Regions from separate parts of the Homo sapiens genome. Here regions 1, 2, 3, 4, 6 and 7 are each reported to be linked to region 5. Evidence: microRNA targets listed by miRTarBase, many of them from high-throughput screens and not tested one by one. Region 5 holds a microRNA gene; each other region holds the end of a gene's coding sequence.
What was found. Region 5 holds the annotated microRNA hsa-miR-665 (ACCAGGAGGCUGAGGCCCCU, at 2,372-2,391, shown strand). A microRNA usually pairs through its seed, bases 2 to 8, with sites in the 3' UTR of a target mRNA and lowers its output. Matches are read on the target gene's strand: a 7mer-m8 pairs with bases 2 to 8, a 7mer-A1 pairs with bases 2 to 7 and ends in A, and an 8mer does both.

Region 1 (4,079 bases), not on the chromosome of region 5:
GAGAGAAACCCTACACTTGTGAAGAATGTGGCAAAGCCTTTAAATGGTCTTTAATATTTAATGAACATAAGAGAATTCATACTGGAGAGAAACCTTTTACTTGTGAAGAATGTGGCAGCATCTTTACCACATCCTCACACTTTGCTAAGCATAAAATAATTCATACTGGAGAAAAACCCTATAAATGTGAAGAATGTGGCAAAGCCTTTAATAGGTTCACAACCCTTACTAAACATAAGAGAATTCATGCTGGAGAGAAACCCATCACATGTGAAGAATGTAGGAAAATCTTTACCTCATCCTCAAACTTTGCCAAACATAAGCGAATTCATACTGGAGAGAAACCCTACAAATGTGAAGAATGTGGCAAAGCCTTTAATAGGTCCACAACCCTTACTAAACATAAGAGAATTCATACTGGAGAGAAACCCTACACATGTGAAGAATGTGGCAAAGCTTTTAGACAGTCCTCAAAACTGAATGAACATAAGAAAGTTCATACTGGAGAGCGGCCCTACAAATGTGATGAATGTGGCAAAGCCTTTGGACGGTCCAGGGTCCTGAATGAACATAAAAAAATTCATACTGGAGAGAAACCCTACAAATGTGAAGAATGTGGCAAAGCCTTTAGACGGTCCACAGATCGGAGTCAACATAAGAAAATTCATAGTGCAGATAAACCCTACAAATGTAAAGAATGTGACAAAGCCTTTAAACAATTTTCGCTCCTGAGTCAACATAAGAAAATTCATACTGTAGATAAACCCTACAAATGTAAAGATTGTGACAAAGCCTTTAAACGGTTCTCACACCTGAATAAACATAAGAAAATTCATACTTGAGAGAAATCCTACAAATGTAAAGAATGTGGCAAACCTTTGGATGATCCACAAACCTTAATGAACATGAGAAAATTTATACTGTAGAGAAACCCTGGAAATGTGAAGAACGTGGCAAAGTTCTTTACCTCATTCTCAAACCTTGATAAACATAAGAGAATTCATACCGGAGAGAAACTGTACAAATGTGAAGAATATGGCAAAGCCTGTGAATGGTCCACAAACCTGAATGAGCAGAAGAAAATTATTACTGGAGATAAACCCTGCAAATGTAAAGAGTGTAACAAAACCTTTAAACAGCCCTCACCGGTGAATAAACATAAGAAAAATCATGCTGGAGGGAAGCCCTACACATGTGGCAGAATGTGGCAAAGCATTTAATTGGTCCTCAATGCTTAATAAATATAATTCATGCTGGAGAGAAACTTCACATGTGAACCGTGTGGCAAAGCCTTTAAATGGTCCTCAACCCTTAATGAACGTAAGTGAATTCATGCTGGAGCAAAATGCTTCACATGCGAAGAATGTGGCACAGTCTTTACCACATCCTCAAACTTTGTTAAACATAAGAGAATTTATACCAGAGAGAAACCCTACACATGTAAAGAATGTGGCAAAGCCTTCAATAGGTTCTCAACCCTTACTGTGCACAAGATAATTCATTCTGGGGAAAAAAATGCTACAAATGTGAAAAACGTGGCAGAGCCTTCAGACCATCCACAAACCTTTATGAAAATTCATATTTGAGAGTAGAAGATTCATTCCACAAACTTACATTGAGAAGATATGAAAGATGAATATAAGAATTCATCCTAGATATAAAACCATAGAAATGTAAAAGATGTGACAAAACCTTTAAGCCATACTCCAGGCTTCTTAAACATAATGAGAACTCATACTGGAGGAAAGTCTTACAAATGTGAAGAATGTGGCAGTCTTTAAATCTTCCTCAGTCTTTTCTAATCATAAGATAATTCACACTGAAGAGAAACTGCAAACGTGGAAAGTGTGACAAAGCTTGCAACCACACTCAATCTATTCTAAATATAAGAGAAATGATATTGGTGAGAAGCCACAAAAATATGAAAAATGTGGCAAAGCCTTCAAATGCTTGTCACATCTTACTGTATATATATAATTCCTACTGAAGAAATCCCCTGGAAATGCAAAAAATGTGGCAGGATTTTTACCAATGCTCATCTTTTTGCACATGATATCCTTTATATTCGAGAAAAGTTATAGAAATATAAAAAATATAGAAAAGTCATATCTCCTCACATTTTACTAACTAGCAATGTTCATACTTAATAAAAACATTATAAATGTAATTTCTGTTGAAAGACTTCAGAAAATATAGGCCTTTAAAGTGAAGAAGAGTATTCTTAAGACAAACAATACAAATATAAAGAGGGTTGTAGTACCTGTACTTCTCTCATGGATTTTGTTGTACACATTTTATAATAGGGGAAAACACTGAAGGAGACTTTCTTCAACATCAGAAAATTTATATTGGAGAGAAATCCTACAAATGTAATAAATGTGGAAAAACATTTGTTCAAAAACTGCAGCTTAAACAGTTTACACTAGAAAATATTTTGTAGATGCAGTAAATGTGAAGAAATATTTAGTCTAAAAAGAAGAGTATGTAAACATCAGAGGATTTACAGTAGAAAGAACTAAGGAACTAACACTTTAGACACTGCAGTAAATCAGAGTATTAAGTATTAAAAAAATCCAAAGTTGAACCTATTAGAGAATTTCTTTGTATATAAGTTGAAAAGAAGATTTTTGAAGAGATACTACATTTAAAGTATATTTTTTCACTTGAAAAAAGTATAGATTTTTTGAAAAGCATATAATAGTTAATTCAACTCAAATTATTTCATACTGTTTCAACATTCCTGTTTATGTGAAAGCATGTGATGAATTGTTGCTGCATCAGAGATAAGAGAGATTCTTTTTCATTAGGTGGGCATTATTTGTGAATTTTTACAAGAAAGAGTGAGGACAGAAATGAAAGATCCATGATGAAAATCTAGCAGAGAGGCTTTTTTGTAGTTGACAATATTGAGTGATGCATGAGGTAGGTGTTCAGAGTAATATTCTTCTGCATTATAGTGAGAGAAAATCTGTTTTAGTAGTAAATTGTTTTACCAATTATACATTTATGTAATAAGATACAGTAAATTTTAAAATTATTTTAAGATTATGTGGGAACATAATTTTTTAACTAAACAAAATTTTTAACGTGTTGAAATAATTGTTGCTTGAATGAAGTGTCATTATGCCACCAACTTAAACCTATCCCACCTTACTCAATGGTGTAGGTAAAAGATGGTAACAATGGTAACATAGTTGAATGACATTTTTAGTATTCTCTTTTTCCAGTGGCTTTAAATAGCAAATACATTGAAGAATATCATTCCCATATGTTGTATTTTCACTCTTGTTATTTTCCGAAATTTTTGTGGGTACATAGTATGCATATTTATCTATGGCATATATGGGTTATTTTCTTATACAGGCATACAACATGTAATATACCAGAGTAAATGAGTTATTCATCACCTCAAGCATTCATCCTTTGTATTACACACAATCCAATTATACACTTTAATTATTTCTAAATGTACAATTATGATTGTAGTATTATATCAGTATAATTATAATTCATACATTTATGCATCCTGAATACTTCTAAAAAATGTTTTACATTTCTCTTTGAACATGTGGCATCTTTTCCTGCAAACTTATACAAACTTTAGTTCCATTTACATGAAGTTAAGTATGTAAATGTGTTGCTGTAAAGATAAACCTTAGGTGTAAGAAAATTATAGAGCAAGCAATTGTGTTTATGTGAGTTTGTACCTATTTTCCAAAGAAAATAGCAATATTAGAACAAAGAAGATTATGTTAATACCATGGATAATTTACTGGAAATCTAGAAGCCTGAAACATTCTATATTTTCTTCTTTTTATTTAATGACTCTAGAATCTAATGGATTGTCGTTGAGAATCTCCCCATACAAACTCCTTGTTTTTATTTGTCTGGTGCTCATGCTAGAGCTATAATTTCTTTGATTCTCTTTTTTGTTTTCACTTCATGAAGTGTTTATTATGTGAGCTGGTCAGAAATTATAAGAATGATTTTTATAAAATGTAGTGAATGTAAAATTTTTAGATGTAATTTCATAATATATGTATTAAGTTATTTTAGTTAGAACATTTCATTTTGTTGTT
Region 2 (4,075 bases), not on the chromosome of region 5:
GATTGGTTGAGCCCAGGAGTTTGAGACTGCAGTGAGCCATAATTGTACTACTACACTCCAGCCTGGGGCACAGAGCCAGACCCTGTCTCCCCCAAGAAAAAAAAAAGAGCTAAAAACCAGAATAGGCAAATATATAGAGACAGATATTAGACAAGTAATTGCCTGGGGCCAGGAGGTATATGGTGGGGGAGAGCAGAATAAGGGAGAAGAGAAAAATGAAAAATGATTACTTATGGTTAAGAAGTTTCTTTACTGGGTGATGAAAATGTTCTAAAATTGATAGTGGTGATGGTTGTACAACTCTGAGAACATACTAAAAACCACTAGACAGTCTATTTTAAATGGTTGAATTGTGTGATATGTGAATTATATCTCAATACAGCTGTTTTAAAAAGTTCTGAATTGTTATTTCTTCAAAACGATGGATGCTTTGCTAAATTGGCAACATACACTAAGAACATGAATGTCATTAAATACCTTTGCCTAGTGGCTGAACCAGAATCCCAACCCCAGGACTACTGTTGAGGCCACATTCTAGGTCCCCAAGAGTGGGCTCCTTCACACCAGGCACAGTACCTCACTATAAACTCAGCCTACAGACCTGATGGCCAAGCAGTTCCCTGCTGGGCCAAGGAAGGGCTGGAGGAGGATGGCAGGGCCACTTGGATGCTAGCCAGGAGCAACTGGAATGGGAAATTCTTAAGTGTCTCTGATATGGCACAGAATGACCTCAAAACTCAGGTGATAAAATTCTTGGATAAAAAGAATTGCTGGGTGTGGTGGCTCACAGCTGTGATCCAAGCACTTTGGGAGGCTGAGGCGGGCAGACTGCTTAAGCCCAGGAGTCCTGGGCAACGTACAAAACCTCATATCTACAAAACAATATAAAAATTAGCTGGGCGCAGTGGCACACACCTGTAGTTCCAGCTACTTGGGAGGGTGAGGCAGGAGGACTGCTTAAGCCCAGGAGTTTGAGACTGCAGTGAGCCATGACTGTACCACTGCACTCCAGCATGGGGGACAAAGCCAGACCCTGTCTCCCTCAGGAAAAAAAAAAAAAAAGCTAAAAGCCAGAATAGGCAAATATATAGAGATAGATATTAGACAAGTAATTGCCTGGGGCTAGGAGGTATATGCTGCGGGAGAGCAGAACAAGGGAGAAGAGAAAAGATGTGCGTACCAAAAGGATGTGAGGCCCTGAGCCCAGGGCAGGTAAGGCATGGGACTGCCTTATTTTACCCTGGCATTTAGGACAGTACTCCACAAACCACAAATTCTTATAAATCACAGCCAGTGAAAGTATGCTCAAAATCCAGAAAGCTCTTTTAAAAAAGGTCTCAACACTTTGAGATGTTAGTCTTGAAATAAGTTAATGTTTCAAATTATATTCATTCCTTTAAATGGATTAAATTGCTATTTCTTGACCCGGCAAAATTTTACCTTGGTAGATCATTCAATAAAGCAGCACTGTGCCCTTCTCTAAGTCTGTGGTGTTGTACCGGCTCCTGCCATCATTTTTCACAGCTCTTTGAGGAGCAAAGAGGTGGAGGACTTGGTAGACACTAAGTAGCAAGTTGTGATAAGAATCAGAAACAGACACCAACTTCTTGAATCTCAACTAAGGTTTCTTTAGCCACATTCTACACAAAGATAAAATCTTAAGCCATTCATTAAAATCTTCAAAATTATATGTATTTGATAATAAACATCACATAGAGCAAATGGTTAAGTCACTAACACATTCTCTTTAACAGCAATTTCAGTTTTATAAAACTACTTTCAGATATTGTTTCATTTTGTATCATGATTTTTAAGTTTTCTCACTGCAGCTGGAATTAATTTCGTTACAATGAGAGGAGGAAGGGTTTAAAAATTAAAACGGTGTCTTCTAATTTTAAAATGTTAATTTAACAAAATATTCCATCCTATTTCAACATTATTAAACATAGGCCAGGCGTGGTGGCTCACGCCTGTAATCCCAGCACTTTGAGAGGCCAAGGTGGGTGATCACGAGGTCGAGATCGAGACCATCCTGGCCAACACAGTGAAACTCCGTCTCTACTAAAAATACAAAAATTAGCCGGGCGTGGTGGCATGCGCCTGTAGTCCCAGCTACTCGGGAGGCTGAGGCAGGAGAATCGCTTGAACTTGGGAAGTGGAGGCTGCAGTAAGCCAAGATCGCGCCACTAGCACTCCAGACTGGCGACAGAGTGAGACTCCGTCTCAAAAAAAAAAACCAAAAAACAAACAAAAAACCATTACTAAACATCAAAAGAATCATTCAAATACACTGGTTTTATCAAAAAACATGAAAAAGCCAAAATATAAATTTTCATGTTAGCTAGTCTTCCAATTTCATTTTATCCTAAGCAACTTAGGTCTCAGTTTTGTAATGTGACATTAATATAATGTTTATGGATGGGTGTGATGGCTGATGCCTGTAATCCCAGCACTTTGGGAGGCCCAGGTGGGCGGGTGGCTTGAGCCCAGGAGTTCAAGACCAGCCTGGACAACACAGTGAGACCCTGTCTCTATGAAAAATTGAAAATTAGCTGGGTGTGGTGGTGCACACCAGTAGTCCCAGCTAGTCAGGAAGCTGAGGTGGGAGGATGCCTTGAGCCAAGGAGGTCAATGCGGTGAGCCATGATTGTGGCACTGCACTCCAGTCTGGGTGACAGAATGAGACCGTCTCAAACAAAACAAAACAAGAAAACAAAAGATAATGTTTATCATGTCCACCTCCACAGGACAATGAGATGTAATTATAATAGGAAATATGATGGGTATGTTTCAGGGAGAATGAGCACATCTACCAGTACTGAATCAGCTTTGATGTTCAGAAACATCAAAGAAATATGGTCTCATCACTTAACACAGATGATACCTTAGAAGTTTCGTTTGTTTCTACTCTAAATAGAAGGGTCTTCTTTCCAGAACGACAGATCCGATACACTGTGGAAGAAAGAAATATAAGGAATTACAACCTAAACCCAAAACTGGCCCCAGGAAGAAACTAGTTGGAATGGCAGAAGGAGCTCCCAGCTAAGAGCTGTGTTGGCTGGGCCAGCTCTCTAGGCATCAAGAGGGGAGTGGACTCAGGTGGGCTTGAGTCCTCAGCAAGAGAGAGACTCCAAATGCTGCAGCTGTGACACCCCACAGTGCTCTGAGTAACCAAGGCAGTGGCGGCGGGGTGACAGAGGCTGTTCTTTCTGTCACTGGGCTCCAAGGGGCAGGAGCAGCGGGGTGAACACACTGAAATGCAAGACTGACTGTGCGCTACAGGCCGTGCTGAGCTAGAGCCTCTGCCTGGAGGGAAAGTACCAAGCTCCCAGGCAACAGCTTTACGAATTCTGGCTACTACACCAAGTCTAAATACATGACGATTTTCACAACATCAATGAGAAATTGTTCTTTAAAGTCTGAATAAATAAATTCTAGCTTTTCTTTTCAGTGTCTTAAAAACAAAGCAAAACAGACATGAGCAACATGAAGTGATATGTTTATCCAACTGTGTGTTGTTGAATCAACTTTTAGTTAAAATGTTAGAGAGGGACAAATAAGTACAGTGTGTCGATGTGCGGTGCTGTGAGGGCACAGACCAGTGATCAGAACACAACACCTGCGGCCTCTCCCATCCTGACAAAGTCTCTGCATGCCAACTCCAGCGACAGGGTGCTAGGACAGCGCAGGGATGAAATACTGAAGGGACACGTCTTCATGAAGCAGATCAAAATGCACCATCTTGTTATTCACAATATCTGGGAAGAGAAAAGCCATGATTTTAGAGACCTAGTGCAGCACACACATTTTGATCTCTACTTTTTCAGAACAGCCTTCCCAGCCTGCACCTCCTGTTTTAGGCATCTGTCTTCCCTGAGGCAGCTGCAGAGACCACAGTCTCTCACTCTCACTGCCACAGCTGAGGCTACATCACGGCCCCAGCACTGGCGGCTCCCTGTGCGAGGAGAGGAAAAGTGAAGCGGCCCAAGCCCTTGGCAAAACACCCAGCAGGCTGGCTTCCTGGCAAACCACATTCACCCACATGAGCATCCTTCTGCAGCGAAGAGCAGCTCCT
Region 3 (4,078 bases), not on the chromosome of region 5:
AGAAACCAAAACAGTACATCATGATTTTGTGAATGTGTATCTTCATAGTGAAAACCGTATTTGAATACTTGCCACCATGATTTGCTTAAGGAAGAAATCCACTGGAAAAGTTTACACAGCAAAGGTGTGTGTCTGCGTGTGTGTGTGTGTGTGTGTGCATGCCTGTGCATGTGCTCATTTTAAAAATCAGATATGACTTGTCCTTTAACTTTAGTTGGCAGAGACAGAAAAGTGCAAATTCAGTAAATAATTGACTTACACAATATGTGACAATAAATACTCTAATTTTCTGTGACATCTAAAAGTTATAATTCTTTACTCAGTAGAAGACAGCTATCAGGTGCTAAAATAAAAAAAAGATACCTAACCCAATAAAGGCAAAATCTTAGTTATATTAACCAGCAAGGTACATATTACATTATTATTACTAGACCATGCCTCCAAGTGTGTCAAATTATAAAAATGTGTTCAGCATACATAAAATATACATTAAAGATTTCTCTCATCATAGGCACAATCTAATACAAAAATATATTTGACATTTATAAGTTAGAAGATCCATTGAGAGCCTCCAAAATAGGACAGGGGAAGGAATGAGTGATGACAACATAAAAAAAGAAGCACACATAGATGCAAATAGTTCCACTTATATGATTATTTTCTTCATCAGCAAAGGGTTAAGAGCAGTTTACACCAAACCAAGTTACCAAGCAGATCACAATCAGTTCACAGGTTGGATAAGTCACGGCACGCAGGCCAGAAAATGTACTCAGACTTCAGTCAACCTAATGGGACAGTGTACTCACACTGTGGTTTTGTTGTTTTGGAGTCTAGAAGCTCCATCTACCCATTCTCCATGGTCTACCACCATGTTAACACAGATTTACCACAGGCGCCATCTGTACCAAGCCTAGGATAGACTCTTTAAAAAAAAAAAGACCTGGCCGGTCACAGTGGTTCATGCCTGTAAGCATTTTGAGAGGACAAGGTGGGTGGATCATGAGGTCAGGAGTTCAAGACCAGCCTGGCCAAGGTGGTGGAACCCTGCCTCTACTAAAACTGCAAAAATTAGCCAGGCACGGTGGCAGGAACTTGTAATCCCAGCTACTTGGGAGGCTCAGGCAGAAGAATCGCTTAAACCCGGGTGACAGAGGTTGCAGTGAGCACAGATCACACCACTGCACTCCAGCCTGGGCAACAGAGTGAGACTCTGTTTCAAAATAAAAATAAAAATAAAGATTAAAAATTTTAAAAAGACCTACACTTTGACTAGTAAAGAAAACCTACAGGATGGTGTTGCAAAACGCAAAATTGTCTATCCAGTTAAGTGAGCTGAACACAAACTAATCTGAAGTCCTGAACTCTCTGTGGGGAAATAAAAGTATTTTTTTTAAGCAGGCAGAAATAAATGTTTTGAAAAAGATTCAAAAGCACAGGACCTTATATAATCTTTGAATGTGGAATAATAGTTCAAACAATATTTTGAACTGAAAATTCAAGAATGAACTCTCAAACAAAAATGTCATGATTCAGAATGCTCCATGATGATGACAGAAAAGCTTGTCACCTATGCTGCATGTTAAGAAGAGAGAAAAATGGCAACAGCCGTATTTTAAAGATTCATAATGTTCTTCCCTTCCATCTAGTTAAAACCAGATGTCCAGGCCGGGCACGGTGGCTCACACCAGTAATCCCAGCTCTTTGGGAGGCCAAGGCGGGTGGATCACGAGGTCAGGAGATGGAGACAATCCTGGCTAACATGGTGAAACCCCATCTCTACTAAAAATACAAAAAAAATTAGCCGGGTGTGGTTGCGGGTGCCTGTAGTCCCAGCTACTTGGGAGGCTGAGGCAGGAGAATGGTGTGAACCCAGGAGGCAGAGGTTGCAGTGAGCCAAGATCACGCCACTGCACTCCAGCCTGGGTGACAGAGCGAGACTCCGTCTCAAAAAAAAAAAAAAAAAAAAAAAAAAACAAAAAACAGATGTCCAATATTTTTGGGCACCAATTTTGCTCTTCAGAAAAAAGTTCCCTTCTCATTCACTGAATATAGGAGAGCAATCTCTTCTCTCTTACTATTATCTAAAACCCACACGGAATTCACATCAGGGAGAAAGTCAATGTGAATACACATTTTGGAAACAGTCTACTGAAAAGTGGTCAGTAACAGAGATGAAGAAATATGAATACTGTTTAGCCAAAATCAGTGAGAAATAACTTCTTTCAAAGAAATTATGACTATTCCCTCAAAACAAGGTCAAATCAGATAAAATTTGCCAACATTCTACTTGCTTTTCTGTTTTATTTTGAAAAGAAATATTAAAATATTAATATGAGATCATGTTTCAGCCAAAAGAATTTGTAAATAAACGATACCCTAAAATGATATCCTTTAGCTCAATAAAAATTTCTTTAAAAATCTAACCTTAAACATTGAGCCAAATTATGGCAGAGATTCTTAAAAGTGACTGAGGTATTTAGATTCTTCAAAACCACAGGTTTGCAGTACCGGGCATGGAGGTAAATTAAATGACAAAAATTAGCAATGAAGAATAAAAAAATAACTTTGAATTCCTTGTATAATATCTAAATAACCTGAGCTAAGGGGAAAATGATTAAATCCTGGCACTGTGTAGCCCAGCAAATGTTCCACCAGCAAATATTTTGAGGCCAAAATCTATGTTCATTCACGAATAACCTTTTCAAGTAATGTGTCAAAAGATTTCCAAAAGTTGGTAATTTGACAATTTTCACAAAGAAAGGTAAACTCCTAAAATGTAGATACTGTTTGTCTAATCTATAGACTAGGCTAATAGATTAGCAAAAGAGTCACACTTTTAGTTGTAAAATTATCTTCTATTAATATTTGCTCTTACTTGGTTGGCTTTCAAAGGAAAAAGAGTGTCCATCGCTTTGAAACATTCTGTAGACAATCTGGAGATGACTATTTCTGGTGACATAACTTCAGCTGAAGATTTTGTTCTTTTAATAAGTAAAACATGGAATTCTGGCCTATTAACATGAATTATTTTTACAATAAAAGTCAGTTGGTGGTCAGGAGATCTGCTTTCTATTCATTGCTCTGCTGATAACAGGAATAATTAATTGGGATAAGTCAATTTGCCTTTTTGTGCCTGAGTTTCACTGTCTGCAAAGTGGGGTTAAGAATATCTGTGCTATGTTATTCACTGGAGTATTTTGAGGATAAAGTAAAACACTAGAAAGCACTTTTATTTTTTCAAAACACAAATATAAATGCTATGTCATGATATTGTTAATAATTTTACAGGTACCTCATCATGTTACCCATTCAGATATGTGCTTAAGGTAGGTGTTCCTACAGGATCTTGGGTTGGATGTTCCGTTTGATTTTATTTTAAAAATAATAAATCACAAAACTAAAACGTTTGAGCAAGGTCACTTAACCCTCTCCCCAGGTGGTTAGTTATTATTACCATCATCATCCTCCTCAACATCATTATTACTTTTCAGCTACATGTTTAAAAGAGGAGATCTTTAATATGTCAGCTTAACTGGGAAAATGTGTCCCTGGCACAGGTGGTTTTCAGAAGAAAAGCCCATCTTCACAAGAGCTTTGTCCTCTGCTTTTATTTTAAAGTGCGGACCCTGGGTGGGGAGGGACGGAGCGGGTGTTCCGGGTCTGTCACTGAGGAACCAATTCCCTCAGAGAGGCCAGAGCAGCATGGATGCGGACATGCAATCTGTTTTCAAAGTCGTAGCCAGAGAAATCCTCCTGTAAGATCAAAGAAAGATATTTATGCACTCTGTTAGCTAAGCTTGCACAGGGTACTGTGGTATAAAGCACACTCAATTTTGCATTTCCCAAAGTAAAATCTCTACACTCCCAGTAAAGGTTTCCCATCCACTTGATTTTCATATTACTCAAACCTCAAACTTTGTATTCATTTTTAAAAACGTCAACTGAATGTCAATAAGGTTCTCTTTGGACAATTTTCCTCGAGTTATTCTTGAAAAAGTAGTCTTATGTTGTGCTCAATATAAGTTGCTATTAGAAATTCTTAATTCAGGGACATAGTTATAAAATCAAAAGTTATCTT
Region 4 (4,079 bases), not on the chromosome of region 5:
ATAATGAATCACTGTATATATATATATGGATATTTCAAAATTCACTTGCTAAAAATTACTTGCTTGAAATCACGCCAGGGAGGCAGTTTTAGAGTAGACTGTCAGGTTGTATAACAGCCTGTTATATAGAACTAAACATAATACTTTAAAAAGAGAAGAATCCTATATATGATGTTACAAGGTAAATAGCTATTTCCATATTTTAAAAAAAAGGAAAAGATCACGAGATGACATTTTATTCAAATATATACATGCATTTCTACCTTAATATTTGTGACCAACATTGTGTGAGACCAACATTTGTGACCTAACTTCTCTACTAGGATCTACACACAACAGAAATTGTTTATAAAACTTTGCTTTTTAGATTAATTCTAAAATAATTTATAGTCACCTGGAATATTTATGCACAATATAAAGAGGCTCTAGATGATTTCATTATATTCCATATTTCTGTAATTTTATATTACAAAATAGTAAGTGGGCTCATTATTTAATTTTTCCAAAACATAGCTTTATTACAGCTTACTGTAAATCAGATACACCTTTCTCTGTAAACATTTTGTATGCTCATTAAAAGTTTGCTTCCCTAAATGGGCATGATGAACAAATATTAGCAAAATTGCTCAAGAATATTTTCCTTTGAAAAACGTATTAGTCTTTGAAAAATTACAGGTCTGTTCTAAAAAATGCTGCAATATGGCAATTTTAAAGTCATTCATTCCATCAAAAATATTCCTATTTTAAGTAAAAAACCTGATTTTAATTTGTCCCTACGAAAAGCCTAAGCACTGTCATACTTAGAAAAACTAAAAGATGGTAGAAACAATTAAGATCTAATGATCCTAATGTTCAGATAAAACTGGAGTGTTTATGTCCTCAATAATGAAGTATTTCCTTACTTTAGAGAAAGTAATCTAGCATCTGACTTAAGTGAATAAAGCTGAAATATTCTTTTGCCAGTGTTCAGGTAAATCATACAGATCAAGGAACTGACAAGCTAACTGTATGTACTTCTGGTAACAGGTGAGTGAACAGTTAAAATTATTAAAAATATGTAATTCCAAGGCTGAATATGCCATTCCCTCAAAGTAAAACCAGTCATTTTAAAAGCAAAAAAATTAAAAAACAAACAAACCCTCTAATGGTCAATTCAAACTGGCTGCATAAATTGAGTTTTAATGGCTACAAAATCTTTCAAATTGCTAAGAGCACATTTGATTTAACTGAAGGACTGTATTTAGGATGCAAAAAACCCCCCAAAACCCAGATTAGTGGCAATGTCCCATGTGACAAAAAGCTTTTAGACAAAATGACAGCTGTCTTTAAAAAAGTGCAAAGACCAAGGAGGGCAGATCATGAGGTCAGGAGATCAAGACCATCCTGGCTAATATGGTGAAACCCCGTCTCTACTAAAAATACAAAAAAATAAGCTGGGCGTGGTGGCACGCGCCTGCAGTCCCCGCTACTCAGGAGGCTGAAGCAGGAGAATCACTTGAACCCAGGAGATGGAGATTGCAGCGAGCCGAGATTGAGCCACTGCACTCTAGCCTGGGCAACAGAGTAAGACTGTCTCAAAAAAAAATAAAATAAAAGCAAAGAGACGATACCATTCCCCCATCCTCCAAATAGCATCCAAGCAAATTCCAACATCAAGATGCAATCAATTTCCAAAAAATTTATTTATACTCTGTATTAACCAGTGTTTCTCTTTTCCATCCTCACTCCCTAAGGAGTCTTTTTACAATCCTAATCAACCACCCCCAAAATTTTAATACCACAGATATGGTATCTGTTTAAGTACTGTGTGTATATTCATGCTTTATACATCAAGTTTTTGTCCCCCAGAACAATCTTGACAAGGACTGCGTGGCGCTAACAATGAAAAGTTTATAGTATTAAAACTTTTTTATTTGAATAAGTGGGGAGAAGAGAAATATATTTCAGCACTTAGATATATAAATTATTTCCAAAACAGTTTAATACTCAACTAGTCGGTTCTATCAAAATCAGTTTTCCCTGAAGTAAGCACTGTTCCCAGCTACAAGCGATCCTCATTTCACATGGTACTGTGGGACCATAAAAATGGTCCTGCAATCTTAATAATCAATAGGGAAAATGATGATTGTTCCATGACCTTTAAGGTTCTGCTCAAATATTAAAAACTCTTAAGACCAGTTATAAATGTAGAAAAAAATGCAAAAATGTTTAAAAATATTTAGTACACTGTAATTTAAAACATTAGAAATAGAATTAAAGTGTTTTATTTCATTGTAAAAACAAAGTAGTTTGAATAGGGCTTGCCTTTTTTTCTGGCAAGTAACTTACCATACTGAGTAAGCATCTTTTATGTTCACGGCAAACTGCCATACTCCTTCTAAGTTTGGGTCAGCTTCCACCCTTTTATTGCTTGTGCTTTCAATGTTGTGAAATATTTCTATATTCACATTAAATATCTTTTAATGTAAAGTTTTTTTTTTTTAACCATCACTTCCTCTGGGACGTATCTGTCTTTATTGCAACCACTTTGCTTATTTGTGTTGGTAAGTTTGCCTTCACTAAGCTCCTATGAATACACAGCAGCAAGAACAACATTCCCATGGTCAGTGACTTCTTCTACAAATTCATTTATGTTTGATTAAAATTTCACTTCCAGTGTTATCATTTTTCATTGCTTTGCTGCACTTTCATCTTTGTTGACCAGTTCTTTCGAGTGTTCACTTCTATAGAATGTCAAGTAGATGACAGAGAGACAGCATAACTACATGCTCTGCTGTACGTGAACTGAATTAACAGATGCACAGGGACAAACCACTGGAAGAATTTGAAAGAAATAACATGACTGGTCACAATCATGAAGCATATCTGTTATTTACATAGCGATTTGTAGACTGAAGAGCTAGCAGAGAGGTTTGTACTTCATGTAATTACTCAGTTACAATGTGCTAACTAAAATTTTAACCTAGATTTTAACAACAACAGTTTCCTTACCAGTTTTCTTTCCTTCCTGGTAAGGAAACTGGTATTTAAACTAAATCTAGGTCACTGAAATTTGTGCCCATGGGAAACATGCAAATAGAGGACTGCCTACACCCTACTTGTTTATATTGATCCAGACAGGCTTAACGCTGACTACTGAAAAATAGCCTATCTGAATTTATATCAAATAGTGAATCTTAAAGCACCCAAGATGAAAAATTAGGGCACACTGAGATGGTTTTAAAATCTTTGTCATATGATAATCAAGCTTAAAATGTATCTTAGAGTAACAGATTTTTAGAAATAAAGACCTTTAAAGGCTCCATAGTTTGGTACCGCAGATTATCCAGCATGTTTATTATGAATTATTTCTCCTCCTTCAATTTCAATTTGCTCATACAGCCACTTGCGGTCACAGCGGCATTCAGCTCCACACTTGGTAGAACCACAGGCAGGACAAGCATAGAAACATCCTAAGCAGTCTTCATCCAGGCAGTCACAGAGGTCCATCCCACTAAAAATCAGGAGACCCTGGCTATCATAGACCTTACTCTTTGCTGGTATCACTTGTCTGTAAAATAAAACACAATGAATTATACCTCATAAATATGTTATTTTTGATTTAATTGAAAATACAGTAAAAAAAAAAAAGGAGATAAAATATTTTTAGATGAGGTCATGCCAAAATCATCTATAATTTATCAGGCTCAAGGCTTATTCTATCGTCAGCAGTAAATGAACTCCATGTGAGAAGAGGAGACCTAACTCTATAGAGTGTTGAGACAAATCTAAAAATTCTGAATACGCTTCTTGAAGTGCATAATTTTCCCTTTACTTTAAACAAACAAAAAAGAATGACAGGTTAATAGTGGTTCACTTTATTAGCTACCAACCTCTTCACTGTTTTATCAACACAGTTTTATTTTTATTATAGTATACCACCTCTATAGATTTTTATACTACAATTAATGTTTCTTGTTCTTTAATGGACTCTAGTAAATTTGGCCTAAAAATATTTAAATGACTCAATGGTAAATTTTAACAGATGGAATACATGGCATATATAGAAATGTTGACTGAACTTAGAAAAAAAATTCTGA
Region 5 (4,079 bases):
CCGTGTCGTACTGAGCTCCTCCTCCACTGATGTATTGCATGGACTCCTTCTGACACGCGGAGCCCTCCCTGCACCCTTGTGTCTCACTGGGCATCTCTTCCCAACCTTGTGTCCCGTGAGATCTTCCCCCACCCACGTGTCACATCAAGTCCTCTTTCTTGTGTTACTCCAAGTCCCTGCCCCCATATGTCACAGAGAGACTCTTCCCACCCACGTGTCACACCAAGTCGCCTTTCTTGTGTTACTCCAAGTCCCTTCCCCCCATATGTCACACAGAGACTCTCTTCCCACACACGTCACACTGAGCCCCTTTTCTGTCTCACATTCCACCTCTCCTTCACTCATGTGTCATGAGGAGCCTTTTCCCTACTAATGTGTCACCTGAGCTTCTCTCACATGTCACTTGAAGTCCTCCCCTTCCCATGCATCACCCAGAGACCTTCCCCCCACTCATGCATTGCCCTGAGCCCCTCCCTTACTTATGTGACATGGAGCCCCTCTCCACACCCATGTGTCACACCAACCCTCTCTCCACTGATGTGTCACACCAACCCCCTCTCCACCCATGCGTCACATGGAGCTCTTCCCCCACCCGTGTGTCACACCAGCCCCCTCCTCCACCCATGTGTCACACTAACCCCCCCCACCCATGTGTCACACCAGCCCCCTCCTCCACCCATGGGTCACACCAACCCCCTCCTCCACCCATGTGTCCCATGGAGCTCTTCCCCCACCCGTGTGTCACACCAGCCCCCTCCTCCACCCATGTGTTACAGGGAGCCCCTCCTCCCTCCATGTGTCTGTCAATCTGAGCCCCTTTTCCATTCATGTGTCACTCTGAGCCTCTTTCCCACCTCCATACCCTCCTGCCACCCCTACTTCTTAATCTTTAACCCCTTTCCCTAAAGGTTTCCCTCCATGGGCTCTTTCAGAGAATGTTATATTATCAGGTCATTTACTCACAGATATTTTTGCACCACCTACCACGTGCCTGGCTGCGTGTCCCTGTGCATGTGTGTTGGTGGTGTGGATGGCTGGAGAGTGTAGGACGAGGCAGGCAGTATGGTGGTTGAGAAAGATGTCAAAGAACAAAGGAAGGTGTTTTGGGGTACAACTTTATTGAGATGTAATCCACATACACACAATCCGCCCATTAAAGCTCACAGCGAAGTGTGTTTTAGTTATTCACAGATATCTGCAACTATCACCATAATCAATTTAAGATCATTTTCATCACCCCCAAAAGAACTCCAGAGCCTTCAGCTGTCACCTTCACCCTCCATGCACACCCCCCAGCCCTCAGCAACCAAAAATCTACTTTCTGTCTCTGGGAAATTCTTGAAGTGCCCCTGGACTTCATGAGTCCTCACTGGGTCCCCAGAGGTGCCTGTTGCAACCCATTTCACAGATGTAGAAGGCAAGGCTGGAGAAGTACCAGGGAGTCAAAGCAGTGGGTGGGTGGGGTCGAGTCCCCGATGTCCACTCACAGACCTGGGCCAGAATCAGGCCTGTCTCCCCCTTCACCTCCCCATCCTCCGTCCCTTGGCCTGGCTGCACAGTCACCTGGGGGCTCTGTGGGGCTAAGGGAGGCCCAGGCCCTGGCCATAGGAGGCAGGTAGGGCAAGGCTGGGCAGGGTGGACAGGTACCCCAGCGCTGCAGGTGCCCAGCAGTGGGTGGCACTGCCTAGGCTGGCTGTCCCTTGCTGTCACTGCTCTAACCACTAGCAGCAGGCGTCCCCTCTGCCATCCGAGCGCTTGCACTGCGCTTCCGGGAGGAGGGTTGCGGCCCGTAGTCAGTAGTTGGGGGGTGGGAACGGCTTCATACAGGAGTTGATGCACAGTTATCCAGCTCCTATATGATGCCTTTCTTCATCCCCTTCAACCACGCGCAGCCCCCGGACCCTCCTCTGCACCCTTGGCTGCACGGGGACGCGTCCTCAAGTCCGCTGCTGTCCTGCCAGCCTCTTCCCGGCATGCTCCTTGGGCTCTTCTCTCTCTCTTCTGCAGCTCTCTGACTTCCTGGAGGGGAGGGCCTGGGGCTGGGCCATCTCTGAGGCCCCTCCTTGGCAGGGAACTATGCCCCTGGTGGGACACCCCCTGGGCTGACTCCACAGCCAAGGGCAGATAGGCCGGAGGGGGAGTTGGGTAGCCCTGGGGCTTCTCCCACTGAGGGGCTGGGGCTGTGCTCCCACACAGAGCCCTCCAAAGGGACCCGGCCCACAGGATGGATGGACAGACGTTGGAGAGATGGTGCCCCTTTGTGCCCAGGGTGGAGGGGGTGGGGCTTTGGCGGACCAGGGCTGGCCCTTTCTGTGCCCCAAGAGGAGGGTCTCCTCGAGGGGTCTCTGCCTCTACCCAGGACTCTTTCATGACCAGGAGGCTGAGGCCCCTCACAGGCGGCTTCTTACTCTCTCCTTAAACCTGTTCTGGAGACATTTCCCCTCTCCCCAAGGATTCCCAACTCTGGGTCCCCAGAAGCTGTCAGCTGGGCTCCCTTCTTCCCCTGTGCGTACCCTGCTCAGGCTGGGTACCTGAGGGTGCCCAATGGCAACATGAGCAGGGGGCACGGCCGTGGCCCCTGGTTCTTGGACCTCTGTCTTCTGCCTCTCTGACTAACTCAGGTCCTGTGCATGGCAGAGGTGACCCGCACCAAGCCCTGTGATATTGGCATCATTAACCCCATTAACAAGCCACGACAGCCAGCCCAGGCATGAGCATCGGGGCAGCAGGGCAGCCAGTGTGGGGAGAGAGGCCTTGCAGTAGCTGAGGCCATTAGAGAGGACAAGAGGGTGCAGGAGGGAGCATCCTCACCTCTGCCCTTCCCACTTACATCCCATCTCCCCTTCCTCACCCCTCCTTCCCCATGCACCCCTTCTTCCTGTAGGAGGGAGCACCCTCACCTCTGCCCTTCCCACTCACCTCCCATCTTCCCTTTCTCACCCCTCCTCCCCAATGCACCCCCTCCCTTCCTGCAGGAGGGAGCACCCTCTCCCCTGCCCTTCCTTCCCACCTCCCGTCTCCCCTTCCTCACCCCCGCTTCCCCCATGCACCCGCTCCCTTCCTGGTCTACCCCTCAGCTTCTGTGGTGTCAGGATGGGTATGCTTGTCTTTGTTGATCTCAGACAGGTGGACAGGGGTCTGGACGAGGCTTACTGTTTGGGTCTGAGGTCAGTGCTCATGGGCTTGGGGCATGACAAGGGTCTTGTCGTCCCCGCAGCAGGGCTCTGAGCGGGTGGGTGGAGCTTGGGAGTGGGGGTGATGGCTTCTATTTGTTGTCTTTCTCTTTTTCACTTTGGGAGCAACCGGGGTCACCAGGTGGGCAGGAGGGGACCTCACGTCTCTGCCCTGGGCAGATTGTTAAGAGCTGGTCAAGCTCCTGGCACGGGGGCCTGAGTCCAAGGCCCTAACTGGACCTGGGGCCGCCTGCAGGAGGGATGAGCGAGTCCGGACCCGAGCGGTGAGTAGCCCTCAGCTGCCTGGGTGGTGTGCTGTTGAGTGTTCCAGAAACTGGCCCTGTGTGCACCAGGGCTGGAGGCTGGCACGTTGGGCATCTCATGGGGGTGGGCTGGGTCGGGAAGGGAGGTTGATGGACAAGACTCAGCAGGAGTGGAGCTCAGGGCTCCCTCCATCCCCTGACATCAGTGACCTGGGGGTGGACAGAGAAGGTGGAAGATGGGTGCATTTAGTTGTGGCCCGCCAGGTCCCGTGGGCCTGTGTGCCAGTGTCCGCGCCAGGCTGTGCTGTCTGCTGTTCAGAGGAGTTTTCACCTTTTTTTGTGGTGGCCATGATGTCATAACCCAGCATGACATTTAACATTAACCTTCCTTTTTCTTTCCCCAGGAGAAAAAAAGGTTTGTATTATTTTTCTTTTGAATTTTTTATTTCCATAGGTTTTGGGGAACAGGTGGTGTTTGGTTACATGAGTAAGTTCCTTGGTGGTGATTTGTGAGATTCTCGTGCACCCATCACCTGAGCAGTACACACTGAACCCAGTTTGTACTTTTATCCCTCACCCCCTCCCACCCTTTTCCTGGAGTCCCCAGAGTCCGTTGTATCACTTTATCAGTAGTTCTCCTCTG
Region 6 (4,079 bases), not on the chromosome of region 5:
CGGCTCACTGCAATCTCCACCTTCCCGGTTCAAGCAATTCGTGCCTCGACCTCCCAAGTAGCTGGGATTACAGGCATGCACCACCATGCACAGCTAATTTTTGTATATTTAGTAGAGATGACGTATCGCCCTTGGCCAGGCTGGTCTCCACCTCCTGGCCTCAAGCAATTTGCCCACCTAAGCCTCCCAAAGTGTTGGGATTACAGGCATGAGCCACCGTGCCTGGCTAGAATTTCTAATGAATGAGTAAGACGTCGTAAGCAGTGCTGTTTCACTCATTTCATTTCCCATATTCTCACAAACTCAGCCCAGGAGAGAGTGAAAACTGGAATATCTAAGTGGAAGGGCTCTGAGGGACCATCAAGCCCTATTTCTCAATTTATAGATGGGAATCATAAGGCCCAGAGAAGTGAGGATGCTGACTAAATGTCACCCAGCAAGTGAGTGTCAGAAATAAGATTAAGAGGGAGCTGAGCACACAAGTTCTTGCCAGAGGACACCAGGGCATGTTTTGATGTTGGTGTGGATATAATATTTTCTTGTAGAGTTGAAGGTAGAGAGGAAGGGTGAGTCTAAAGGAATGAAGTAATGTCTTTAGTGGAGACAGAGGCTGAACACCCACAAAGTGAAAGTCAGTAAATTTCTTTTTTTTTTTTTGAAACGGAGTCTCACTCTGTCACCCAGGCTGGAGTGCAGTGGCGCAAACTTGGCTCACCAAAGTCAGTAAATTTCTAAATGGTACCCAGGGTCCCCAATTAAGGCTGCATTTTTTCGTAAATTTTATTGAAAATAAATTAACTATCTTTCTGGTTGCTTCATTCCATTCTGTCTTGCCTAATTTTCAGGCCCATCCAAGCATCTCACTTTCCAAGCAGGTGAAATAAAATTTATGTCTTTGGGACTTGGGATAAATCATGGTTTTGGCCCCTTCTCTCCAATAATTTCTTGGAGAAGGCTGGGTAAGGACCCACCTGGGGTTTTGCCTCTCCTTTCTTCATCCTTTCTCATTGAGGGCATGGTGCCCTACCTCTGCCTCCAGGCCAATTCTCTCCCAGGAACAATCCTGTGCTTAGAACAGGGGACTCCAACGAGAACCAACAAGATCAGCCTCTACCTGGCACCTCCTGCTTTTTCATTAGCCCAAGATCTGTCACATGGACTGATTCTCTGTCACTGGCTTCCTATGTTGTTCCCTCTGCCTCTAACTCTATTACTAAGTTACATGTTTGCTCCCCCAAGTAAGCTCTGAACTCCATTAAACAGGTCTGTGTCTAGAACGCAGTGCTTAAAACATGAATAGGCCCCAAATAAACACTCAGTACATCTTGCTGGAAGAGCAAGGTAGGTGGGGGGGATTGGTAGGTGTGTGAATAGGTAGGTAGCTATGTGGATGGATGGGTGGCTGGTAGAGTGTGATAAGTGGGAAGATGGTTGAGCAGGGAGAGGGATTAGTGAGGAAAGCATGGATGTTTGGGTACATGAATGCATGGATTATGGATGGGTGGATGATTGGGTGAATAAGTGGATTGGATTGAATATAAAGATGGATAGGGTAGTGATGGGATATGTGGGCCTATTGATGGAGGCTGTTTGAATGAAAGGTGGAAGAGTGCATTGGTAGGGGGATGGAGGGAGTTAGGTATAGAAATGATGAATATGTATTTTGATGGGTATGAAAGAGTGTGTGCATGTGTGTGTGTGCAGAGAAAGGGGGAAGAGAGAGGTCAATAATAGGAAGATGAATTAAAGGCTAGATGGGCAAGTGGGTCTGTAGAAGAAAGATGAGTAAGAAAAGTAAGTGGATAGACATATGGAGTAGGCAAATAGCTAAGTTGAAAAGTGTGTCAGTGGAAGGAAAGGAGGGATAGGTGAGTGGGGATTGGGTATTTGCATATGTGTTGAGTGAATGGATAGGTGAGTAAAGGGATTGAATAGTTAGTAAATAGGTGGGTGGAAACATGAATGTACAAATGAAAGCATTAACCAAAGTTAAAGATATAAAAGAATTATATAGAGAACAATTTATGCTACTCTAAAGTAATACATGTGAAAATATAGGAAAAATGGATCAATTTTACCAAAATACAAAAGACCAAAATTTGCAGAAGAGGAGGTAGAAAACCTGCAGACTATAAGATGAAATATTTAAAAATTACTAAAATATACCACTAGAAAGAACCTGATCTAGATGCTTTTGGAGCTGAATTTTGGTAGCCTTCAAAAAATGCTGAATTGCTATATTATGTAAAATATTTCAGAGCATAGAAAAAGTAGCTAGGTTTCCCAATTAGTTCCCATACTCATTTTTTGAAAGTAATATGACCCAAATAGAAAAAACAAATTTAAAAAGACCTATTTTTCTTTTGACTATAGATGTGAAAATTCAAACTATACTATTAGCTAAAAAGAACCAATAATATATTGATACAGCAGTCTGCAATTAAGTTTATTAAGAATGCAAGGATGGCTCAAGAAAATTTAGTAATTTATTATGCCAACAAATTAGAAGAGAAAAATCATTATGTGACTGTATGCTTAAAAGGTATTTGATAAAATTCAGTAGTCATTTTCAGTAGTAGCTATAAATGGATAGGAAATAGGCTTAAAAAGGAAATAACTGGCCAGGCACAGTGGCTCCCACCTGTGATCCCAGCACTTTCGGAGGCTGAGGTGGGTGGATCACCTGAGGTCAGGAGTTTGTGACCAGCTTGGCCAACATGGTAAAACCCCATCTCTACTAAAAATACAAAAAATTAGCTGGGCATGATGGTGGGCACCTGTAATCCCAGCTACTTGGGAGGCTGAGGCAGGAGAATCACTTGAACCCGGGAAGCAGAGGTTGCAGTGAGCCGAGATTGCGCCTGGGCAATAAGAGCAAAACTCCGTCTCACAAAAAAAAAAAAAAAGAAAGAAAGAAAGAAAAGGAAAAAGAAAATAATTTAAGTGCAATAAAACTTATGTATTCCAAATTCAACAACAAATATCTTTTTATAGTGCAGGAGCCATTGACTTTAAAATAAGGAACTAGACAAGGATGGATGCCATTGCCTTTATTTTCATTATTATTTTGGAGGTTCTACACAATACAAGAAGACAAGAAAATAAAGTCATGAAGTTGAAAAAAAGCCAAATATATCATCACTTTCAGATGATGGGATTATATATAAAATCAAAGTAACATCATTCAATATTGTGATACTTAAGATAATTTGGCAAGTTGGATACAAGACAAAACTGACAGCTCTTTATCATGCTACTCATAATTAATGATTTTGATGATAATATTTTCTACTTACTATTCAACGTCTGGGGTCCATACATTTCAGTCCACAATGTGAGCAGCACTTTTCCACCAATGGGCACTCCTCATCCTGCAGGCACTTGGGTTTATCAATCTTGGTACATAGCAAGGGCTTGCGTGGGCAGAAACCTTTTTTGACTTTATGGGGTAAAAGAAAACACTTGACCTTGAAATACTTGGTCATAATTTGAGACAAATTTGAGGAATCTTGGGAATCTCAAACAAGGTTTTATTCTGATTAAGCTTCTTACCTTTCCCCCTACAGTAACAATAGACTGGAGGAGGCAGAGTATCAACTTTCTACGACTAATAACTTGAGGAGCATCAAGAAAAGTCTTACCATCTCTGACTTGTACCATCTGATAGGATTCCTGTCTGCTCCTACAGAATTAATGGATCTGGGTTATATAACCCCAGAGTACCACAGGTGGCAGGAGTATTAGCACACAGAACCTTCTTGTTTTACAAATTGTAGGCATTGAGGCGTATTTAGAGGGAAATGAGTTGCCCAATGCCACATAGAAAGCCAGTAGAAAAGTTGAAGTAGGTTGAAAAGCCTTGGACTCCTGCCACCACACTATACTGAACCTTAGAACCTTAAAGCCACACCTGGACAATCCCTGGGACTACATGGGGAAGTAAACACCTGCCTTAGAGGAGGCAGGAAAGTTGGCTTCTATCCAACATCATTTGCTACTAATGTTTTCCCCAGCCCATCTTACAGGATATGAATATGATGTGCATGCTTTGAAGTTCTGTGCAGACATGAGGGCTTATT
Region 7 (4,000 bases), not on the chromosome of region 5:
GGCGCAGGGCCCCGCACCGGTGAGGAAGGTGCTTTTGGCCCCATTGCGAGGGGCCTTGGCCAGGACTGGCCCTGTGGCCAGGAGGCGAGAAGGTGGCTGTTCCCGGATTGACGGCTTTTTCCCGGGGGCCTTTGGAAGATTTGGTGGAAGGACAAGAGGGCCTGTCCCTGTCCCCGTCCCCAGGAGGTACCGACAGTCCCTGTGCTGGTTAGACACGGAGCGCTGCACACCGAAAGCCCAAATTGGGAGCTCTGCCTGCCGGCAACTTTGCTGATGGGGTGATTGCTGCTTCTGGGGGGTAAGGAAACAAGTTACAGAAATTACCGCGTTCTGTGTGAAGGGACTGAGGGTGTGGTGTCATTGGCAGAGGGTCATTTTAGGAGAGCTGCCCCAGCCCCTCGAACGCCTGGCTTGGGGTGTCATTCTGCCTGGCGGCCAGGCCTCCAGCTTCCCCTGCCCCGGGCCTGGGGCTGTCACTGGCCCTGATCCGAACACCTCCAGATTCCGGCTTCTACATGGGACAGACGGGGACGCACAGGCCACCTTCCTTCTGGCAGGGACTCTTATTTATTCCCATTGCTCTAGGGCTTTCGGTTTCCCCTTCTTCCGGTAGGCCGCGTAGAGGCATGCACCGGGTAGGTTTCCGCGGTGACCCCGCGGCGGCCTGAGGGACGCTCCCTGCCCCATCCCGGCTGTTGGGCTGGGCCGCTTTGCCTCTGCTTCGCCCTGTGCTGTGTTCTCCAGCTTTGTAGCAGCAGCCTTGACAAACCCAGGCGCACTGTACCAAGGCAATGTAACTTTTGATTTTCGGTCAATTTAAGTTCTTTTGTCACCAAATATTAATAAACAGTTTTGACTTCACACCAAGGTTGGATAAACTGCAGGGGGTGGAGGGTGCTGGGGTTTTGCCTTGGCTGAGTGACGGGTTGGGGTGTGAAGGAGGCCAGAGGGAGACAGGCAAAGCCCAGAAGGGACAGGTCTGCCTTGCAGGACTGAAGGGCGACCCCTGCCCCTGGGCCCTTCCCGTAGGCAGCACCTGGGCCTGTCCGGGCGGCTCCCCGGAGTGGCGCGTTAGGCCTCTGGCAGGTGGCCTGGAGGTGGAAAGGCCTATCCGATCACCAAGACTGAGGGGCGCCCTCCCCACCACCCAGGCAAGGAGTCCAAGGAGACCAGCGGAGCAGACCACGCGGCATTTATTGTTGGGCCCGCGTCCCTGCCCGCCCCGGGTTAGCGGCAGCCGCACTCGTCCACCACCATGTCCTCATACTGCCGCAGCACCACGTTGTCGCTGTTGTCAAAGAAGAGCACGGAGATGGGCGACAGGCGCGCGGGCACGCAGCAGGGCAGGTCGGCGGCTCCCGGGGCGGCCGCGTGCATGAGCGCGCGCAGCACAGCGTGGTTGAGCGCCGGCGGCCCCCCGGACCCCGACAGCGCGACGGGCAGCGCGCACTGACCCTGGCAGTAGTTGGCCAGGAAGCCGCGCGGCGCGATGACCCAGCGGTGCCAGCCCACCTCGCGGAAGCTCACGTACAGCCGCCGCGCGCGACAAGCGCCCCCGGGGCCGCCGCCCAACACGGGTTCGGCGTCGCGCCGCGGCCGGGCCAGGGGGTGGCACAGGCGCGGGTCGAGGGTCACCAGCAGCAGCGAGGCCTCGGCCAGGCGCGCGCAGGCGGCAGGGGCCCGGGGGCGTAGCGCCAGCGCCAGGCGGAGGCTGCGCGGCCATGAGGCGTTGCGAGCCCAAGCGGCGCCCAGCAGCTCCGCGCGCACTGGCGGCCCCAGGGCGGGCACCAACTGGCGGAGCAGCACCGGCCCGGGGTCCGCGCCCGCGCCCTGGCCCGCTTGCGCCACGCTCAGCTCCCAGCCGCCCTCCGGGGCTGCCGCCGCCGCCGCCGCGAAACGCAGCTCCAGGCGGGCCCGGCTCGGGCGCTCAGCGGGTTCCACAGCCGACAGGTCGAAGACGACTGTCCACTCAGGGCAATGCCCCGCGGCCGAGGCAGGCTCCGAGGCCCGGGTGGGCGCACCTGGGGAGGTAGGAACAGGAACTCGGCTCGCGCTGCGTCCCCGGCCTGCCCATGGGGTCTCGGTTAGGGACAGGGAGGAAGGTGAACGCTGGGGCTCGGGGCGCACCGTCTGTGGGAAGGGTGTGAAGCGGCGGGGTGGGCTGATGGAGTGGGGGCAGGGCATGAGTTCCAAGGAAGGCGCCCTGCGGGGTGCGGCGGGGGGGGTGGGCTGCCCTCGGCGGGGGGCATAGGAGGAGGGGTGGCCGAAGTGGGAGACATGAGCCAGAACCTGGGCCCCTGGGGAAGCCATGCTAGGGTGTGGGGATGGCATCTGCAGGAAGGCATTAGTGTCAAGAGGTGGGGGTGGGCATGGGGTGGGGACAGGGCTTCAGCATCAAGCAGAAGGACTGGTCTTGGGAACCCCCTGACATGTGTCCCCGGCGTGCAGCAGATGACGAGGAAAGGGTGAGGTGCGGTGGCCGAAGTTGCTAGTAGCCTGGACAGGGCGGGTGGGGACCCTCGGAGCTGCTCGGGCATCCCCGGGCCACTCTCGAGGCTCGCCCTGCGAGGTCTGGCCTCCAGGACCAGTGTCCCCAGCGAAAGCCCCACTCACCGCGGTCCGGGATGTGGCGCACGATGTTTCCGGCGACCCCCAGCTCCTCCACGTGGCACGGTTGCAGGGTGACCCCTGGGGACGTCCGCCGCGAGCCAGACCTGGTCTCCTGGGGGTCCCGGCGTCGAAACAGGCGCCACATGACCGGGGGAACCGGCCGGAGCCTGGGGGCACCCTGGGGCTCATCGCGCAGTCCTAGAGCCTGGAGCAGGGCGGCGGCTGGGCCTGGGGGCACGGGGGCGCGGGTCAGGGGCAGCGAGGGCAGCAGCAGGGCCAGGAGGAGGAGGAGGTGGTGGCCGCAGGGACCTTGCTGCGGCGGTGGCATCTTCCTCCCAGGCGATGACCAGAGAGTGCGCAGGGTCCGCGGCGGCCCGGGACCAGTGGGCTGAGGGCGGGGCCGGTGTCCCCGGAGGGGCAGGGGTCCTGGGGGGCGTGGCCGGGAACTGGAGGCAGGATGAGGGGGCGGGGTCCCAGGGGAGGTGGCGGCGGCCCTAGAGGAGCAGAGTTGGAGGGGGTGGAGGGGCGGCCAAGGACGGGGAGCGTGGCCGGGGTATTCGGGGTGGGGCCGGGTCCACGGGGGCGGGGCCGAGGGGTTCAGAAGCGCTTGTCCTTCACCAGGCCGTTCCTCAGTGGCTTCCTGGGGGTCAGAACCGGCGCAGGTTAGCCTGGGAGCCCCACGCGGCCGCCTGGCCCTCTTTCCCGCTTCTTCTCTGGCCGTTTCACACCCCCTGGCTCCTTTTACCCGGCCAGGCCCGGGCCTCGCCTTGTGGCTTCCTCCTCGCCTTCACCCTGCCCCTCCTTGCCTTCACCCTGCCCCTCCTTCAACCTGCCCCGTAGGCACGTATGTCCCCCCTGGCACCCTGGCACTTCCTCCTTGCTTCCCCCTCTCCAATTAAACCTTCCTCTTCCCCTCCTCCCTGCCTCTCCAGGCCGCTGGAGGGCAAAACCCACGTACCGGCCTGGGCCTGACAACTCCACCGCCTCCACAGTGGGACCCTGCACATCCTCCTCTCCTCTGCCACCCACCCCACGAAGGCTAGTCCTTGACTCCAGTGGCCCTGGCTGGCATCTGCTGTCTCCACCTACTTCCCTTCCATGTTCTTTTATTTTCCTTTTTTTTTTTTGGTCTTACTCTGTGGTCCAGGCTAGAGCTGTGGCACAACCTCCAAGGCTCAATGGATCCTCCCACCTCAGCCTCCAGAGTAGCTGGGATTACAGGGGCACGCCACCACTCCCAGCAATTTTTTTTTTTTTTTTTTTTTGAGACAGAATCTTGCTCTGTTGCCTAGTCTGGAGTGTGGTGGCACAATCTCAGCTCACTGGAACCTCTGCCTCCTGAGTTCAAGCGATTCTCCTGCCTCAGCCTCCTGAGTAGTGTGGTGGCACC

Region 1: miRTarBase lists ZNF141 as a target of hsa-miR-665. The part of its 3' UTR that is shown has no 7-base or 8-base seed match.
Region 2: miRTarBase lists HUS1 as a target of hsa-miR-665. Seed matches in the 3' UTR shown: 7mer-m8 at 2,487-2,493.
Region 3: the mRNA of TTC39C is a reported target of hsa-miR-665. Seed matches in the 3' UTR shown: 7mer-m8 at 1,870-1,876.
Region 4: miRTarBase lists ARL14EP as a target of hsa-miR-665. The part of its 3' UTR that is shown has no 7-base or 8-base seed match.
Region 6: miRTarBase lists WFDC8 as a target of hsa-miR-665. The part of its 3' UTR that is shown has no 7-base or 8-base seed match.
Region 7: the mRNA of CERS1 is a reported target of hsa-miR-665. Seed matches in the 3' UTR shown: 7mer-m8 at 2,887-2,893.

Annotation. Positions count from the first base shown.
Region 1 is chr4:373,021-377,099 of GRCh38, forward strand. It overlaps ZNF141 (zinc finger protein 141), which reads left to right. Exons shown (of 4, transcript NM_003441.4): 4 at 1-4,079. The coding sequence ends at 842. Among named protein-coding and RNA genes, the nearest start is that of MIR571, 25 kb to the left of the region's middle.
Region 2 is chr7:47,961,681-47,965,755 of GRCh38, forward strand. HUS1 (HUS1 checkpoint clamp component) reads right to left here. Exons shown (of 8, transcript NM_004507.4): 8 at 1,608-3,758. The coding sequence ends at 3,676. Among named protein-coding and RNA genes, the nearest start is that of PKD1L1, 15 kb to the left of the region's middle.
Region 3 is chr18:24,132,160-24,136,237 of GRCh38, reverse strand. TTC39C (tetratricopeptide repeat domain 39C) reads right to left here. Exons shown (of 14, transcript NM_001135993.2): 14 at 638-3,753. The coding sequence ends at 3,664. Among named protein-coding and RNA genes, the nearest start is that of CABYR, 4.9 kb to the left of the region's middle.
Region 4 is chr11:30,336,038-30,340,116 of GRCh38, reverse strand. ARL14EP (ARF like GTPase 14 effector protein) reads right to left here. Exons shown (of 4, transcript NM_152316.3): 4 at 1,894-3,550. The coding sequence ends at 3,322. Among named protein-coding and RNA genes, the nearest start is that of ARL14EP, 15 kb to the right of the region's middle.
Region 5 is chr14:100,872,704-100,876,782 of GRCh38, forward strand. MIR665 (microRNA 665) reads left to right here and starts at 2,330; the gene lies at 2,330-2,401. MIR337 (microRNA 337) reads left to right here and starts at 1,790; the gene lies at 1,790-1,882. RefSeq lists an enhancer at 969-1,138.
Region 6 is chr20:45,548,727-45,552,805 of GRCh38, forward strand. It overlaps WFDC8 (WAP four-disulfide core domain 8), which reads right to left. Exons shown (of 6, transcript NM_130896.3): 6 at 3,036-3,439. The coding sequence ends at 3,300. Among named protein-coding and RNA genes, the nearest start is that of EPPIN-WFDC6, 3.4 kb to the left of the region's middle.
Region 7 is chr19:18,867,370-18,871,369 of GRCh38, forward strand. CERS1 (ceramide synthase 1) reads right to left here. Exons shown (of 8, transcript NM_021267.5): 7 at 2,614-3,250; 8 at 1,176-2,021. The coding sequence ends at 3,208. UPF1 (UPF1 RNA helicase and ATPase) reads left to right here. Exons shown (of 24, transcript NM_002911.4): 24 at 1-861. GDF1 (growth differentiation factor 1) reads right to left here. Exons shown (of 8, transcript NM_001492.6): 7 at 2,614-3,250; 8 at 1,176-2,021. The coding sequence starts at 2,938. The coding sequence ends at 1,228. Among named protein-coding and RNA genes, the nearest start is that of CERS1, 27 kb to the right of the region's middle.